2 separate regions of the Homo sapiens genome follow, and region 1 is linked to region 2. A link means that fine-mapping ties the variant in region 2 to the expression of a gene that starts in the linked region. Tissue or cell type: esophagus muscle. Region 2 holds a variant in brackets; the other region holds the start of a gene. All regions are shown on one strand. Distances are from middle to middle.

Region 1 (8,108 bases), 300 kb before region 2:
CATGGACTATCCTCCTGGAATTTTCCAATAATTAACTGGGTGCTACTGTGCAGGGAGATGGAAGAACTGCCATGGTAAGTGAGGGGAGAAAAGTATTTGTATAACATCGGCCCATGGTAGGAATCAGAGGAGCACGTGAAGTTTGTTTCCAGGTTCATCCTTTGTTCTCTCTCTTGCGTATCCTTCATTCCTCTCCCACTATCTTTTGCAGTGTTGTTAGGAGTTGAATTATGTCCCCCAGAAGAAAATGTTGAAGTTCTAACCCTAGGAACCTCAGAATATGATCTTGGAAACAGGCTTGTTGCAGATGTAATTAGTTAAGATGAGGTCATTCTGGAGTAGGGTGGGTCTCTAACAGAATATAACTCGTGCTTTTATAAGAAGAGAAGCCAGAGACAAAGGGAGAATGCCATATGAGGACAGAGGTGGAGACTGAAAGGGAGAAGCTGCAAGCCACGGGACACCCAGATTGACAGCCACCACCAGAAGCCAGTAAGAGGCAAGGGAGAAATTTCTTTTCCAGGTTTCAGAGGGAGTGTGGCCCTGCAAGACACCTTACTTTTGGACTTCAAGCCTCTAGAAACTATAGGACAATACATGTCTGTCCTTTAAGCCATCCAGTTTTTGGTACTTTGTTACCATGGCCCTAGAAAACAAATGCAAGTATCTTCAAGTATCTCCTACTTCACTGTTGCAACAACAAGAAAGAAAGTCTGTCTTAAAAGCTTAACTATTCTGAGGACTTACTATATTAAAATTTCTTAAGATATCTGCATTTGAAAAGAGAACTGATGAGAGATGGCAATAAGTCAATCTATGATAGAATTTCAGACATCAAGGAAGGGCAGTGCACAGAATCCTGTAAGTCTCTTAGTGCTGTGTATCACTACAAACAAAGGTTGTAGCATTGTCTTTCTGGGTGTCTTTGGGTTTTTACAGATGTCTCAGGAGCAACTGCAGGAAAGGGAAAGAGAGAAAGGCTTAGGGGGATTGGGCTCCGAGACCTCACTCCAATTTCAACCATAATAACTCTTCTATATTTTGGGATTCTACGTAAGATTTAATTTGGAAAGCGTTCTGGTGTTAACACAGAGAGAAAGTCACTGCATTATGACATTATTTAACCCACACTCAGGCAAAGTGGGTTTTTTACCCCTCCACTGTTTCTGCAAAATGTGCCTACTTATATGTATGGGTTTACCATTAAAGCAGAGTTGGACACATAAGAGACACAGCATTATTCTTCCTCTTTTTTGTTTAGCTATTGTGACGGGCATAGGGGGAAAGATTAGCTGCTTTTGCTTTGTTCTTGTCTTTTAAGAACTGAAAAATCAAGATCTTCATGATTCAAAATGTGCTATAAGACTGAAGTAAGAGTCGAAATATCTAGTTTATTCTATTATTTGATGATTTATTGGCTGTCTTTCTTTGTATTTATTTTTTGCCATTGGGTGAACAGAGTAGGCTATCAGGATGTACTATTTGTATTCATGTGATTGAGGCAGAAGCAGTACATGAATACTAAAAACAATTGTAACTGATGCTGGGAGTATATAAAGGAAAGAGTGGCTTGCAATTCTCTTCAATTGTAAAAGCATAATTCTTACACACTTGTAGCCCTCTATACTTTTCCATGTATTTCTCATTGGAAACCCTCAGCCATCCTGGGAGGTACGCGACCTGGCACTCCTAACACTATCCCCTAGATGGGCTCAGAGCCTATGGAGGCTCAGAGAATCCTCCCAGGCCTGAGGCCAGTTAGTGAGCGCGGAGATGGGGCTGCCACAGGGCTTCTGAGTCTCGTGCTCTCTGCGATGAGTCAGTGGTGTTTTGTTTTTTCCTGAGCCGTGAGGTCGAGGGAAATCTTAAAACAAATGGCTAACTAGGGCCTTTAGCCCCACCTTACCTCCACCACTTCCACCATAAAACCTTAAGTCTGTCTCTGCACTTGTCATGTCATTGTGACAAGGAAGGAGTCCCAAGAAACAAACAATGAATACCACCCTCAATTTCGTTAAAAGATTCTTCAGTTAAGCATTTGAATCTCAAAATGCTCTTCAAATTCTAATAGCTCATCATTCATCCACCCACACTCTTCCTTCAGTCAAGACACTTGGCGGCAACGCCACACAAGCAACCCGGAGCTCCGGGGCACTTCTGGCTGGGTGGACCCGGCTTAACCAGAAAGAGGGGATGTTGGAATGTCACAGGGGCTTTCTTTTCTTTCTTTTTCTTCCTGTGTTTCCCCCCGAGAACTCCTTTTTTAAGTTACATGTCCAGGTTGGATATATTAAAATGACGCAGATGAACAAGGACTGGATGGTCGAGGAAGGAGGCCAAATAACTTTTACTAGCATGGGCCTCTGAAAATGAAGCAGGGACAGAGACACTTTGTAGCTCAAGGAAAAGCGGCACGTTAGAGACCAGGCTCCAAGCCTGGGGTCTTTGTTTTTGTGTCTTTTATAAAGTGGCCCATAGGGACAGCAGGCTGTGTGGTGGGAGCTCCTCCTCGCTTCGCGGATTTGGCCCCGAGGGCAGACGAGTCCGGTGGAGAGAAAAACCCTGAACTTCCAAAGGCATCATCCCGCGAGAGGGAGTTTCGGGGATGGCTTTGGGAAAATGTAAAACAAGGAGATGGGGAGCCAAGGATGGGGGGCGGTGGTAATCAGAGAAGCCTTAAAAGAATAAAGGGGAGTCCAGCCCTTGAGCAAGAGTGAGAAAGAGAGGCTGGGTGGGAGAAGATGGGAGCAGACAGGACGCAGCACGAGTGCCAGGGCGCGCATTTGGGGGGTGTCCTGGCGGTGTGGAGAGAGAAGAGAGAGGGCGCGGGTGACATCACGCCCGGGCCCCCTTCCCCTCGCCGGGTGGGTGGGGCTTCGGCGCGCCGGGAGGGCGCGGGGTCAAGTAGGGGGAAGAGGAGGAGCAGGCATGAATGTGTCTGTGTGAAGACCGGGGAGGGGCGGAGGAGGAGGAGGAGGAGGAGAAGGAGGAGGAGGAGGAGGAGGCGGCGGCGGCGGCGGCGGCGGCGGCGGAGGGCGGGGAGGGAGCGCGCGCGTGGCTCGCGGCGCCCGGGCTCCCCCCCAGCCCCCGACCCCGGCCCGCGACGCGCCGCCTCCCAGCCGCCGCCGCCCGCCTCGCAGCTGGGACCCACTCCGGGCTTGGGGACCCGGCGGGCGGGAGAAGCGGGGGCTCCCGGCGCGGCCTGGAAGGAGCGAGAAAGCAAAAGTAAGGCGAGCAGCACTCCAAGTTTTCCCAACTTCGCCCCCTGCGGCGGCAGGCGTCCTGCTGCTCAGCGCGTCCCCTCCGAGCCCGAGAGTGGCTGAAAGAAAAGGGACTGGGCGGGGGCCGGGGCGGAGGAAGAGAGAGTGCGAGGGAGCGAGGAGAGTCCGGCAACATCTGTTAAAACTTGGGGGAGGAGGAGCGCGGGGAGGAGGAGGAAGAGGAGGAGAGAAGGGAAGGAGGGAGCGCGCGGGAGGGGAGCGCGGAGCCGAGGGACAACTTTTCCACCCCGTGAGTAGTGCAGGCGGTGCCAGGTCGGGGCGGGGGGCTTCTCCACCCAGCACGGGGCACCAGGCCGGGATGGGACCTTTTTCCAGAAAGTCGATTGGATGCCAGGAGAGGCGTACGGCTGGGGGTTTCTTTCTTTCTCTTTCCCCTCCCTCCCGCGGTTGAACCAAATCAGAACTGTCACTCAGGGCTTGTGAGTCAGAAGGGATCGGATTACACGATCCCCGAAACTGATGCCGGAGCTGCACGAGCGGGAGGGAGCGGGCAGGGGCAGCGCCACCGGCGCGCTCGCACACTCGCACTCGCGCACACCCGCCGCTCCCACTCACCCGCGCCGCTCTCCCGCCTTCCCCGCGCGCCCCGCGGCCGCCCGCGCCGCACCATGCCCGCGGCGGGCGCACCCCGCGCCCAGCCCGGCCGCTCGCGGTAGCCGTAGCCGCCCGCGGCCGCGCGGAGCGGGGAGCCGCCAGCCTGCGCCCCGTCCGCGGGTCTATGGGAAGTTCGGGGACTTGACAGCCGCTGCCGCCGCAGGTACGTCCCGCTCGAAGTTCTTTGTTTCGCGGACCCCGCAGCCCGCTCCTGCGGCCGCGCCCGCGCCTCCGGGGCCAGAGGTGGTCCCCAGCGTGGGGACGGGATGGAGTGAAAATGGCTGTCAAAAGGCGCCCAGATTTAGAGAGCCGCCGGTGAGGCGTCCGAGCAAGGCTTGCATTCGCTCCCTCCTCCTGGAAGGTCCTTTCCGAAGAGTCCGACCCGCGGACCGGCCGGAGACGGATTGGAGAATTTCACCTCCCGGAGGGGGGACGAAGTTTGCCGCAGTGGTGGCGGCGCCCCTCGCCTCCGCCCCCATCCAAAGGGTTCAGAAGAACTCCGCGAGCCCCGCACGCGCCTGGCTCCTTCCTTTGCGCGGTGGCGCTCTACGGCTCGGGCTTCGGGCGCGCACGGCGCTCGGGATGGGCGGAAGGAGGCGGGAGGCATGGTGGGTGCGCGCGGGGACCTCCGCCGCGGGGGCCGCCGCCGCTGGGGCTTCTCCAGCCCGGGCTATGCTTCGGAGGGCGGGGGTGTGGTGTGAGCGGATGGAGAGAGGCGCGCCTTCGTCGTCATAGAGGAAAAGTGAAAGTTGTACCATCTGTATATGATTTGGGATTCTCTTATTTCTTTTCCTTTCCAGGGGCAGCGCGCACAGACACACAAAGTAACCGTGGTCCATGCAATAATCATTTAAGGTGCCGCGTTTACACAGAGCAGCAGGGGACAGTTACTTTCTTGAGTAGCAGCGGGAAAACGGGCGGGAGAAGGCAGAGAGGGTGTAAATATTGATCCCAAACTTGCAGAGTTTGTGAAGCGACTTTTAAGCAGATTGTCCGAAGCGGACGCTCCACCCCGCACCCGGCCTTTTATCCTTTCCTGAACTTTGTGCTCCTGTCCCCCATTGCACCTCCTTCTGTAAGATGCCGTCCCCCGAGAGGCGCTGCACCCCAGGCTTCCCTGCCTGACCCCGCGTGGAAAGAGGATTAAGGAGGCTCCCTCCGCCGCTGGTCATCCTGCCCCAACTTCTCATCTCCCCAGTGCAGACTGCCGGGTAGATTCTGGCCTTGGGTACAGTGCTCATGGCCCTCTGCCAGTTTATATGTACATATATTTATGTAAAACATTTTCTCCCAGCTCTTTGCCAGCTGTTCCACATTTTCCAGCTGCCACTTCAGTTTGAAATGATGGACTGTCTGCGTCTCCAAGTCAAAGAACCCTTTAGTCAAAGGTATGGAGGGCCGGCCGCTGTGCAAATACATGGCAGTGCCATTAGCCGGGCTGGTATTATTAGTTCTAAAAAATACCTCCTGCTCCCCTTTTCCTCTCCTCCCTCTTCTCTCCAGTTAGGCTTTCCAGAGCACAGTATATACACTTTGCTGAAAATTCGAGTAATTAGGCCTTTCCCTCTTAAATGTGATTTTTGTACAGAATTTGGATGAGGCCGTTTTTTTAGATCCCTGAAATATGTGTCTGGTGGAAATAAATTAACTTTTAAAAATAAAAGAGTTTCAGCTTGAGCGCATTGGGCATGGCGGGTGGGGGGCCTGCACCCTGGCCGTCTGAAATGAGCTCTTTTCAGTCTATTTAAGGCAGGAACCATTCATCCTCCCCATGCTACACTTTTTGTGTTGTTTGATGTCTTAGCATATTATAGACCGAAATCTACAAGAATTGACCTAAAGTATTAATTTTGAGTATTTATGTAATTGCTCGGTAATTTTGAATAGGTGCCTTATTGATTGATTCCTGTAATTATTTCATTTAGGTTTTAGATTAAAAATTAATAGTAGTCTGACAGTTTCTTAATTACATGTGTCAAGATTCTTTTGAAGGAGGAAAATGCTATGTTTTAAAATAGTGAAATAGCCTCAAAATCTCTTAATTTTTCTAAAGCAGAACAGTATTTCAGTTGAGGGGATATATTAAAGCTGCCGGGACTGGTTTTAACAATGTAAACTCTGTGAAGTATCTGAAGAATTTGTTTATGTTAGGAAATATTGGTCTTAACGACCTGGTACACAAACACTTTGGCCAGTTAAACTATATTCAAACCTAAAACAAACATGAAATAACATTTAAATTAGTTGTAATAGCATGCTTATACAGAGTAGAGAGTTTATTTTATACTAAAAGCTATTTAATTAGAAACTCCCCGCCTAAGGGGAGATCCTTTCAGGGTATGCAATTCTTAAAGTCAGCCTAGGGAAGCTTTGGTTTAAGATGCATGAATGAGTCCAATGTGAGAGGTGTCTAGTGAAATTTCACACAAGCAGAAACACTTTAAAGATATAGATTGTATTATTGTTAGTAGGCTGGTAGGTCCAACTCAGATGCCTACCAATTCCCAGTGCCTTTAACATGCTTGTGTTCCTTGACTGAACCTTGATATAAACACATTTCTATTGTATATCTAATTTGCAAAGGACCATAGACAGAAATGAGAAAATTCAATACTGATGAAAAATGGCTCTGTAGAGTTATTTCATTAATTATTTAATGAAAGAATTGTTAATTTATCAATTCGATGTGCAAGCCTAAAAGTTGGACTTTCCTTTGTTTCTTGGCCAGTGAAGTTTCCTTAATTACCTGCATGCTGTAAGCATTTCAGACTTCCTCTGTGCTTAGCCATTTAGAGGTCCTTCCTCCTATGTAAGGTATCCTGCTTACTGAGACCTCTTCTCCCCCTCCATTTTTTGAGGATAGAGTTTGGGAGCTTATGAAAAGAAACAATTTAATGATCATTGTTGCATGCACTCACTTACATGGAGACAGTAATGTACTAAGAAAAACCAGTCTTGAAGGAAAAGTGAATCAATGAGTCATGAAATCCTCAAGAAAACCTTAGCAATGGAATGTTAATGCTTTTAGACTATAGTAGATTATCTTAAAAGTCAGACTTTTCTTCTTTATGCAATTGTTGTAAATCCCCAGCTAAAGAATTCTTTGAAGGAGGTTTTAGTTTTGCTGGCATTCATATTCTGAGGTCGGTCTGATTTGTTTTGGAAGATTCAGTAAATTTTCTGCCAACTTATATCATGAGAGGCAATTAAAATGCTGAAATGACTTTATAGGACACACACACACATACACACACGTTTGTTAAACAAAAGGTTCCACTCTAATAATGACTTCAGGTTGTCTTTTCATTAAAGCCTAGGAGAAGATACTGCCCTTCTCTTCACGTTGTCATTTTTCTAGATGAAAATTGATCTGTTTCTGGTTTCAAAGCAAATAAAGGGAGACAGAATAAACAACAACAGGGCAGGGGGTACTGCTGCAAACTTTTTCAAGTATTTTCAGTGTATTTTTCATCTTTACTTTTATTTGATGGGCCTGTGAAATAGAGCTGTAGACTGGCGAAGACTTTAAATGAAATTTCACACTTTGATGATTTTTTTTAAACTTTGATATATTGACAGCAAAAGGAGCTGCAAAGCTTTTATATAACTTGAGCAGTAACGCCAAGCAGCAGTCAAACGTCTCTATGCATTTGTGTTTAACTGCAGAAGAAAAACATGTCCATGGGCAGTGGAGGTTCTTATCAACCCCCTAATCCCAGATCCCAGCAAACCTTGAGGGCATGCCTCAGATCTTGCTGAAATCACTGTAGACTCTCACAGTTTGCAGATTAAATATGCTATGTGTTCCTGGCTCCAGCAACAGTTTTATGAGCTCACTAAGCTTCCTGTTTTAAGATCCTTTTCTTAAGTTTTTAGGAGCTGCTAAAGGCAATGCTGTCTGGAGTAAGTGGTACTTGTTAATTTAGAGCCACTTTAGATATTTCATTCTCTTTTTTAAAAATTGCCATAATTATTATTTTTAAATTGAAAGGCCAGTCACTCCAGGGAGAGGGAGGAGAGCTGTTTGAAAGAAATTGAATGTTAAATGTGTTTGGAAGTACATTTGATCGCAAACTTTACATGGTGTCTCAATTGTTTTATGGCACTTTTCTTTTGCCTGGCCCCTGAAAATGAGAGACTTTTTCCACTTGTAATTCTAAATGCGCTATATTTGAGTGCCAAATTTCTTCACTACTCATTACCTCTGTGAGTGTCTTTTGGTTTTTTTAAATG
Region 2 (8,108 bases):
GATTTCTTAAAACAGAAAAGATTTACTTGTAGGTGAAAGGAAGGAGAAAGACAGAAAAGAAATGTAATAGAGTGTCCCAGACAGGACTCAGTGCCATCAGGGATAGGGGTCAGGCACCTCTTGCCCAGAGATGCTTAAGGAGCTATGGTTCTTTGATGCTCTACCATTCTAGGAGTAGTTCAGGCAGCAAGAGAAACATCTTCCTGCCGCTAAGAATTGCTCAGACTTCAGCTGTTGTGGGCACTTACATTACTTAAGTTCAGTTTTTGTCACTCAAGGAAAGTCTTGTTGACAGAGGTGACAGAGGCTCAGAGTTAGGACCCATGTAGCAGAGATCAGCTTTACTGGGAAAAACTGCTTTGAGGCTCTGTAGGGAGCGGAATGAGAAACGGCAGTCACACACTGCCCCCTGGTGTTCAAGAGCATTTACTGTACCTTGGCTGCTTCCAAAGAGACAGGCGGAGCTCAGGCTTAGTCACCTTACAAATGTCCTTCCTAGGTGTTTTGGGTCTTACACATGTTCTTTTCACCTGTCAGTAACGAGGACCAGCTTTAGTGTTTACCAATCTATTTGCGCACTTTTTGGCCATACAACCCCGTGCAGGAAAAATAATCACAGGGAAAGAGAAGTGGGCTCTCCTCCCTGCACCCTTCCCTGCTCCCACAGCAGCCCACCTGGGAGCTGGCATATGTGATGGTTGAAAAGCATACTGCTTTTTACGTGTCATTCCTCAATAAAGTGATTTTCAAAAACACACAAAAAAAGCGTGGACTTTGCAGACAGATCATATTCAAATCCTGGTGCCCTGTGACCCAGAGGGTGGATAAGTCACTTAATCTGTCTGCGTCCCAGAGCGCCATGTGCTAGGAAGTGAGAATTAAAATACAAATGGGTCTGATCTCCAGCAGCTCAGAGGTGGCTGGAGGACTTACAGAGAGGAGGAGGTTTTCAATACAGCACCAGAAAAGCTTCAGAAGAGGTCAGTACTGGGAGCAGTGTATCTGAGAACCAGAGATTGAAATGGCTGTTTCATGAGGGCGATTGTGAACATTAAATGAGAGAACATGGATAAGGTTTTTAGTGCAATTCTGGCACACAAGGAACCACAAATTATAGTTATTAGAGTTCCAAAGGGGCCTCAGTGATTAAGAGCAGTAGGTCTGGGGACAGGATGGAGGTGTTGCTCCGTGTTCTGTGGCAGGGATTGACTAGACCTGGGCAGCCCAATGGAGATATAATGCAAGTCACAAATTAAAGCCACAAATGTAATTTTAAATTTTCTGGTAGCCTTACTTTAAAAAGTTTTTAAAAAGTGAAATCAAGTTTATACTTTATTTAAACCTATAAATCCAACATATTGTCATCTCAGTATGTAACATCAACAATTATTAATGACGCCTTTGACATTTTTTGATTTTGCCAAATCTTCACAATTCCATGTCTGTGCTACATTTGCAGCACATCTCACTTTGGACTAGCCACGTTTCAAATGCTCAATAGTTCCTGTGGCTCATCTGTATTGAACAGGGCAGCTGTAAAGGGCCACCTTGGCAAGGAAGAGGGACAAGACAGACTAGGCACATCCACCCTGCAGTTGAGCTGGAGAGCTTCATTCTGCTGTGTCTGCCTGTTTGGTCTAGGAGACATTAAATCTGTGCTTGTCAAAGAGTGGCTAAGAGATCACCTGCTTCAGAATCTTCGGGGCTGCCTCTTGTTTTTTTTTTTTGTTTTTTTTTTTTGACATGGAGTCTTGCTCTGTCGCCCAGGCTGGAGTGCAGTGGCGCCATCTCCGCTCACTGCAAGCTCCACCTCCCTGGTTCACGCCATTCTCCTGCCTCAGCCTCCAGAGTAGCTGGGACTACAGGTGCCCGCCACCACGCCTGGCTAATTTTTTGTATTTTTAGTAGAGACGGGGTTTCACCGTGTTAGCCAGGATAGTCTCCATCTCCTGACCTCGTTATCCACCCGCCTTGGCCTCCCAAAGTGCTGGGATTACAGGCATGAGCTTCCCCGCCCGGCCCTGGTCTGCTTCTTAAATGAAAAATCAGATTCCTTGTCCCTTTCTTACTGAAATCTCTGGAGGCCAGAATCTGCATTTGAAATAGGCTTTTTAACTGATTTTAAAGTCCAACATCCCATCCCCTTTCAAGTGTAGACAATGCATTACTTGGCACACAAGAAGGCATGCCCAATAGATGCTTCTCCTTTTGGATTAAAAGTCTGGAACCAAGGATTGGGGGTTAATAATTATGGAGGTGGTCATAACTACATTGCCAGGTCTTACCCTTCCTATTTAGATTCCCTTCACCTTGAGTTTAAACCTGGCCCTGTTCAATAATTTTCTCTAACATTCAGCATTCTCCTCTGGCCTATGTGATTTGGTGCAGGCACACAAAGTAAATTCTCCATAATATCTGAGAAGGTGACTCTTACATCCAGTGGAAAACTCAGCCTGTGGTCCATCCATGAGCATGAATGTCCCAATCTCATTTCCCCAGCATGTTCCCTCACCCTGCCCTAACTCCCCAACCCAGAGGAGCCAGAGGGAGAAATTTCTACTTATCTCGTTGTTATGGCCTGAATATGTCCCCCAGGATTCTTGTGTTAGAAATGTAATATCCAATGCAATAGTGTTGGGAGGTGGAGCTTTTGGGAGATGTTTACATCATAAGGGCTCTGCCTTTGGGAATGAATTAATGCTGTTTATATATAAAGGGGCCTGTGTGAAAGAGCTTATCCCTTGTATTCTTCCACTCTTCTGCCATGTGAGGTCACAGTGTTTCTCCCTTCAGAGGATGAAGCGAGAAAGTCCTTGCCAAACACCAGATGCCAGCCCTTTGATCTTGGACTTCCCAGCCTCCAGAACTGTGAGAAGTAAATTTCTGTTCTATATAATTTACCCAGTCTGTAGCAATCTGTTATAGCAGCCTGAAGCCGACTAAGGCACTAGCACCCTGTCTGATTTCTCTCTCCCTTTTCTAGAATCTGCTGCCGTGAAAGCTCTGTGTGGGGAGACAGAAGGATGAGAGCTAGGACATGCCCTGGAGAAGTTTTCCCCATGGTCTTGGGGATTAACATTAGGCTCCTTACTACTTATGCAAATTTCTGCAGCTGGCTTAAATTTCTCCTCAGAAAATGGGTTTTTCTTTTCTACTGTTTAATCAGGCTGCAAATTTCTGAACTTTTATGCTATTTCCCTTTTAAAATGGAATGCTTTTAATAGCACCTAAGTCACCTTTTGAATGCTTTGCTACTTAGCAATTTCTTCTGCCAGGCCAGACGCAGTGGCTTACGCTTATAATCCCAGCACTTTGGGAGGCCAAGGATCACCTGGGGTCAGGGGTTCGAGGCCAGCCTGGCCAACATGGTGAAACCCCATCTCTACTAAAAATACAAAAATTAGCTCAGTGTGGTGGCAGGCTCCTGTAATCCCAGCTACTTGGGATGCTGAGGCAAGAGAATTGCTTGAACCTGGGAGGTGGAGGTTGCAGTGAGCTGAGATTGCACCATTGCACTGCAGCCCGGGTGACAGAGCAAGACTCTGTCTTAAAAAAAAAAAAAGAAAAGAAAGAAATTTCTTCTGCCAGATACCCTAAATCATCTCTCTCAAGTTCAAAGTTCCACAAATCTCTGAGGCAGGGGCAAAATGCCACCAGTCTCTTTGCTAAAACACAAGAGTCACCTTT[G/A]CTCCAGTCCCCAGCAAGTTCCTCATCTCCATCTGAGACTACCTCAACCTGGACCTTATTGTTCTTATCACTATCAGCATTTTTGTCAAAGCCATTCAGCAAGTCCCTAGGAGGTTCCAAACTTTCTCACATTTTCCTGTCTTCTTCTAAGCCCTCCAAACTGTTCGACCTCTGCCTGTTACCCAGTTCCAAAGTCGCTTCCACATTTTCAGGTATCTTTTCAGCCGTGCCCCACTCTACTGATACCAATTTATTGTATAGTTTGTTTTCACACTGCTGATAAAGACATACCCAAGACTGGGCAATTTACAAAAGAAAGAGGTAAAATTGGACTTACAGTTCCACGTGGCTGCAGAGGCCTCACAATCATCATGGAGGGCTAAAGACACTTCTTACATGGCAGCGGCAAGAGAGAATGACAAGAGAAGCAAAGGCAGAAACCCCTGATAAACCCATCAGAGTCAGATATCATGAGACTTATTCACTACCATGAGAATAACAAGGGAAAGACAGGCCCCCATGATTCAATTACCTCCCCCTGGGTCCCTCCCACAACACATGGGAATTCTGGGAGATACGATTCAAGTTGAGATTTGGATGGGGACACAGCCAAACCATATCAAACATACATCTTTAAGCTTCTCAAAACCGAACTTTTCTTTCCTTGACAACGTGACAGTTGAGCCAGGTGGATTGGATCATCTCTTTATTTGAATATTCGTTTACCCATCTGTTGTATTGCAAGTTTCCTGGAAAACAGACTCCACAACCCTGAGCTTTTTATGCAAAATATTTATCGAGTAAAGATCTTGAAAGATGAGAATGGGGCAAAGGGAGAAGCAAAGGCAGAACTTGGCAAATGGAGCAGTTGAATTGCAATACAGTTTCAACAGAGGCTGACAGGGAGCTCTGGACTTGAGACAGCCGTGAGAATTGTCTCAATTGAGACAAGGGAATCAAGTCTTTGTGTCCCCAGAAAGACTAGTCATGGGTGCAGCCTGTGCCCAGGGAGGGGGCAAAATTTTAGATGAGTCAGTTTCCCTTGGCTGAGGATATTTCAGGACAGGGAGTCATCTGAGAGCCATCACTACCCTTCAACAACCCGGGCAGCTGGATGAATGGGTGCCCCAACTGTAAGGGGGATCTTGACAGCAGCCCAGCATCTACTACTGTCCTTCCCTCAAGTTGTTCAGGTTCATGCACTTCATCTAGTGCATTCACCTCCGTCTAGGAACAGATACTCCAGAACTGTGGCTGGCGCTCTTCTTGAGGAAACCTACAAGATGAAGAAAGCTAGTAGAAGGATCTACTCCCTCACCCCTAGCCAATGCAGCAGTCTTGAGGCTACAATATGTACTCACCATCTCTCTCCCCTACCACCTGTTCTAGATGACTCTCATTCTTGATTAGTACCTCTGCTTGTATTGTGGCTTTCTGGTGGGTGACTGAGACCTTCATCTCTCTGAGCCCCTAGTACCATGACATTCTCAGGCCACAGTTGATACACTTACCTATTTCTTGTCAAATTTGGACTGGAGCATACTGAGAGATGTGTCACTGGATCACTTGGGGGACCAAATTTCTTTTTTGCCCTCATTATGTAATGCCTGTTCTACCTCCCTCAGTGACCAACGTCAATTACATCTGCAAGTATGGTGATTCCTTCCTTGATTGCTGGAATCTAGAAACAAAGAGTCTAAAGTTACCAGGCTGCAGAAATGGCTTCAAGTCTAATGCAATGTTCCTTGTGATTGTCCTCTGGGAATTAAGACTTCTAGTTATGTAGAACCTAGAATTTCAGGAATGGGAAGCACAGCTTCTTCAAGTGCACATTTGGGAATAATGATAAGCAGGATCATGCCTACTCCAGTCTCTTGGTTCGTGGACTCTATATTCTACTTATCAGGGTCAGAGCATCATATATGATCGAGCATGTACACTGTACCTGGAGGATGACGTCCCATCTCACAGGACATGATTTTCAAATGGGGCTTCAGGTGGTCATTTGGTACTCTATCAGGCTAGTAGCTTCTAGTGGTGTGATATAGTTCTGTGACCCTCTGATACACTTCCTTTGCCACATCTCCTTGGTCTGAAGAAATATTATGTGGAATTCCACATCATGGATCAAATACTTTGCAAGCGTTTGGTAGTGGGGCTGGCTGAGCCCCTGCAAGCAAAAAAGGCAAACCTGTACCCGGAATATCTGTTGCTTCCAGTCAAGATGAATTTCTACTTTTGAGTGGTAAAATTGGTGCAGTGTAGTCAACTTTTCACCAAGTAGCCAGTTGATCAACTTGAGAAATGGTGCCATATGTGATGGCTCAGCACAGGTATCTATTGCTGGTAGACTGAAGATACAGATGTAGCTAATCAGCCTTAGTGAATGGGAACCTAGCTGTGGGACCCACACATAGCCTCCTTCTTTGCTATTCTCCATACACTGTTCATGAGCCCATCGTGATAGATATGAGGTGGTCAATGACAGAGACTGGATGGTATCAACTAATTTTGTCTGCTTAGTTGCTTACTGGCTCTCTAGTGGTAGTTGCTTTCTGGTGAACCTTAAAACGTGATACAAAAATCTTCATTAATTGTGTCCACTCCACAGACTTAGGCACATACATCTTCTACAGACTGCTTTATTCCCCATCTTCCTATCTTTCTCCTTCCAGGGTCATGACAAAAAACAGAGGCACTCACCACAGACCATAAGTCCATACATATTCTTAAGTTAGATTACTTTTCTTTCTACACAACGTAAGTGATCAAGTGCACTATCCAAGCTTTGCCCTTTGAGAGGATTTAACCTCACCCCTGACTCTCAGAACCACCAGTTGAGTAAGGCTGTATTTCAGGACAGTTTTTCAGCTTGCACCTACACATTCAGTAGCCCATTTGTGAAGCAAAATTGGCCTAATTCCTCCTCTGTCAGTAGGTTACAAGAGCTGAGGAAGAGATTCAGGATGACAGTGGTGAATGACATGAGGGTCTGGGACACATGTTCATGCCCTTTTCTTGTGTCCTCCATCTCTGTGATCATCTTCAATACAACACATCTAACTTACAATGCATTGTTGGTAAGCCTACCTGACCTTACGGCCTTGTAGAGCTAGCAGAACTTATGGCCTCACAGATCTAGCAGAACGGATAGGCACCATTCTAGCTGAATGGTCACTTGAAACCCTAAGGCCCAGCCCTTTAAGAAATCATAGCAACAGGAGCTATTTTTCAACTAGCACATAGTTCTCTACTGCAGATAGTATGGCCTTGCTCCAGAAACTTAGGGGTGTAGGTTGGAATTTTACTATCAGGGCTTGCCAAAAACTCTATAGCACATTGTCTTTCCCATGACAGGTACTACTGAAATCCTAAGGTCTTTTATGTCATATACCTTATGTGGAAGGTCTGTTTGCACTGCAGCCTAGTCTGTTATAGAGTCCTGATCTGCTCTTGACCCCACTTGAAGAATGGTATGATGCTTTACAGAATTATATTAATGAGCCAAAGACAGCATCTTTATGTAAGCATCCCTTATTGCAGGACTTGCCTAGAGAAGACAGTCATCCCTGAGCTTAATGGTATTGCTGTCCATCTTGCCAATAAAATGATTGATTACCTTAGTAAATGGAGTGACTCCAGGCCTTCATTGTCTTGTAGAGTTTTGGCCTTATGAAGTGTATCTACAATACTATGCCCACTTCCCTGGGCATTGTATTCTTTCTCTACCATTTGACTCAGCATTTCTCCTCCGGTTAGTGTGCCTAAGCTTCCAAGGTCTGACCTAGCAGCATGTCAGGAACCTTGCCACAGTGTTAAATCTTGGGTCAGGGGGCAGGGCTTTCACAAAGACTAACTCTTCCTTATTCTCCTTGATCTAGCACCCCCAGGATCCAGGCCCATAGATACTCTCCTGGCCTCTCTTAGTACAGGTTGATTATGTCTTATAGCTCTTCTAAGGTTGTTCTAGTCACCTATTGTTGCATAACAAACCATTCCAAATTCAGTGGAGTATAACAATGGTCTTTCATTATTACTATCTTTCCACAGCTCTAGGGGTTGACTGGGCTTGGCTAAGCAGTCCTTGTTCTGGGTCTCATGCGGTTAGGAGTCAGACACTGGCTGGGGCTGGGTTCATCAGATCACTGCACTATTCTTTTATTTATCAAATATTTATTGACTCTCTATTTTGTGTGAAGCGCCGCTAAGCGGTGAAGATACAATAGTTATTACAGCATAATTCTAGTCTCCTTGGGACAGGATGCCATCTTTAAGAATCTCAGTAGGTGGTAAGTGCTAAAAAATAGTATGAAAGAGCATTATGGACTCATGGAGTCAAACATGGAAGGCTTCCTGGAGTTGGTGACTTATGAGGGGACTCAAGTAAGTGTTGACGAGACGGGGAAAAAAGGATCTTGCTA

Alleles and levels. Positions count from the first base shown, and alleles are read on the strand shown. Sizes are in standard deviations (SD) of each study's normalised expression.
In carriers of allele G in region 2, the expression in esophagus muscle of the gene that starts at base 3,800 in region 1 tends to be higher than with A alone (moderate effect, 0.62 SD a copy in GTEx).

Evidence for each region. PIP is the estimated chance that this variant, and not a neighbour inherited with it, causes the effect.
Region 1: GLI3 starts here. The variant in region 2 is fine-mapped to the expression of GLI3 in esophagus muscle (GTEx, PIP 0.99).

Annotation. Positions count from the first base shown.
Region 1 is chr7:42,232,901-42,241,008 of GRCh38, reverse strand. It overlaps GLI3 (GLI family zinc finger 3), which reads left to right and starts at 3,800. Exons shown (of 15, transcript NM_000168.6): 1 at 3,800-4,038. RefSeq lists an enhancer at 3,075-4,056.
Region 2 is chr7:41,933,244-41,941,351 of GRCh38, reverse strand. It overlaps LOC124901618 (a long non-coding RNA gene), which reads left to right and starts at 7,762. Exons shown (of 2, transcript XR_007060294.1): 1 at 7,762-7,976. The variant G/A (reference allele first, on the strand shown) is at 3,688.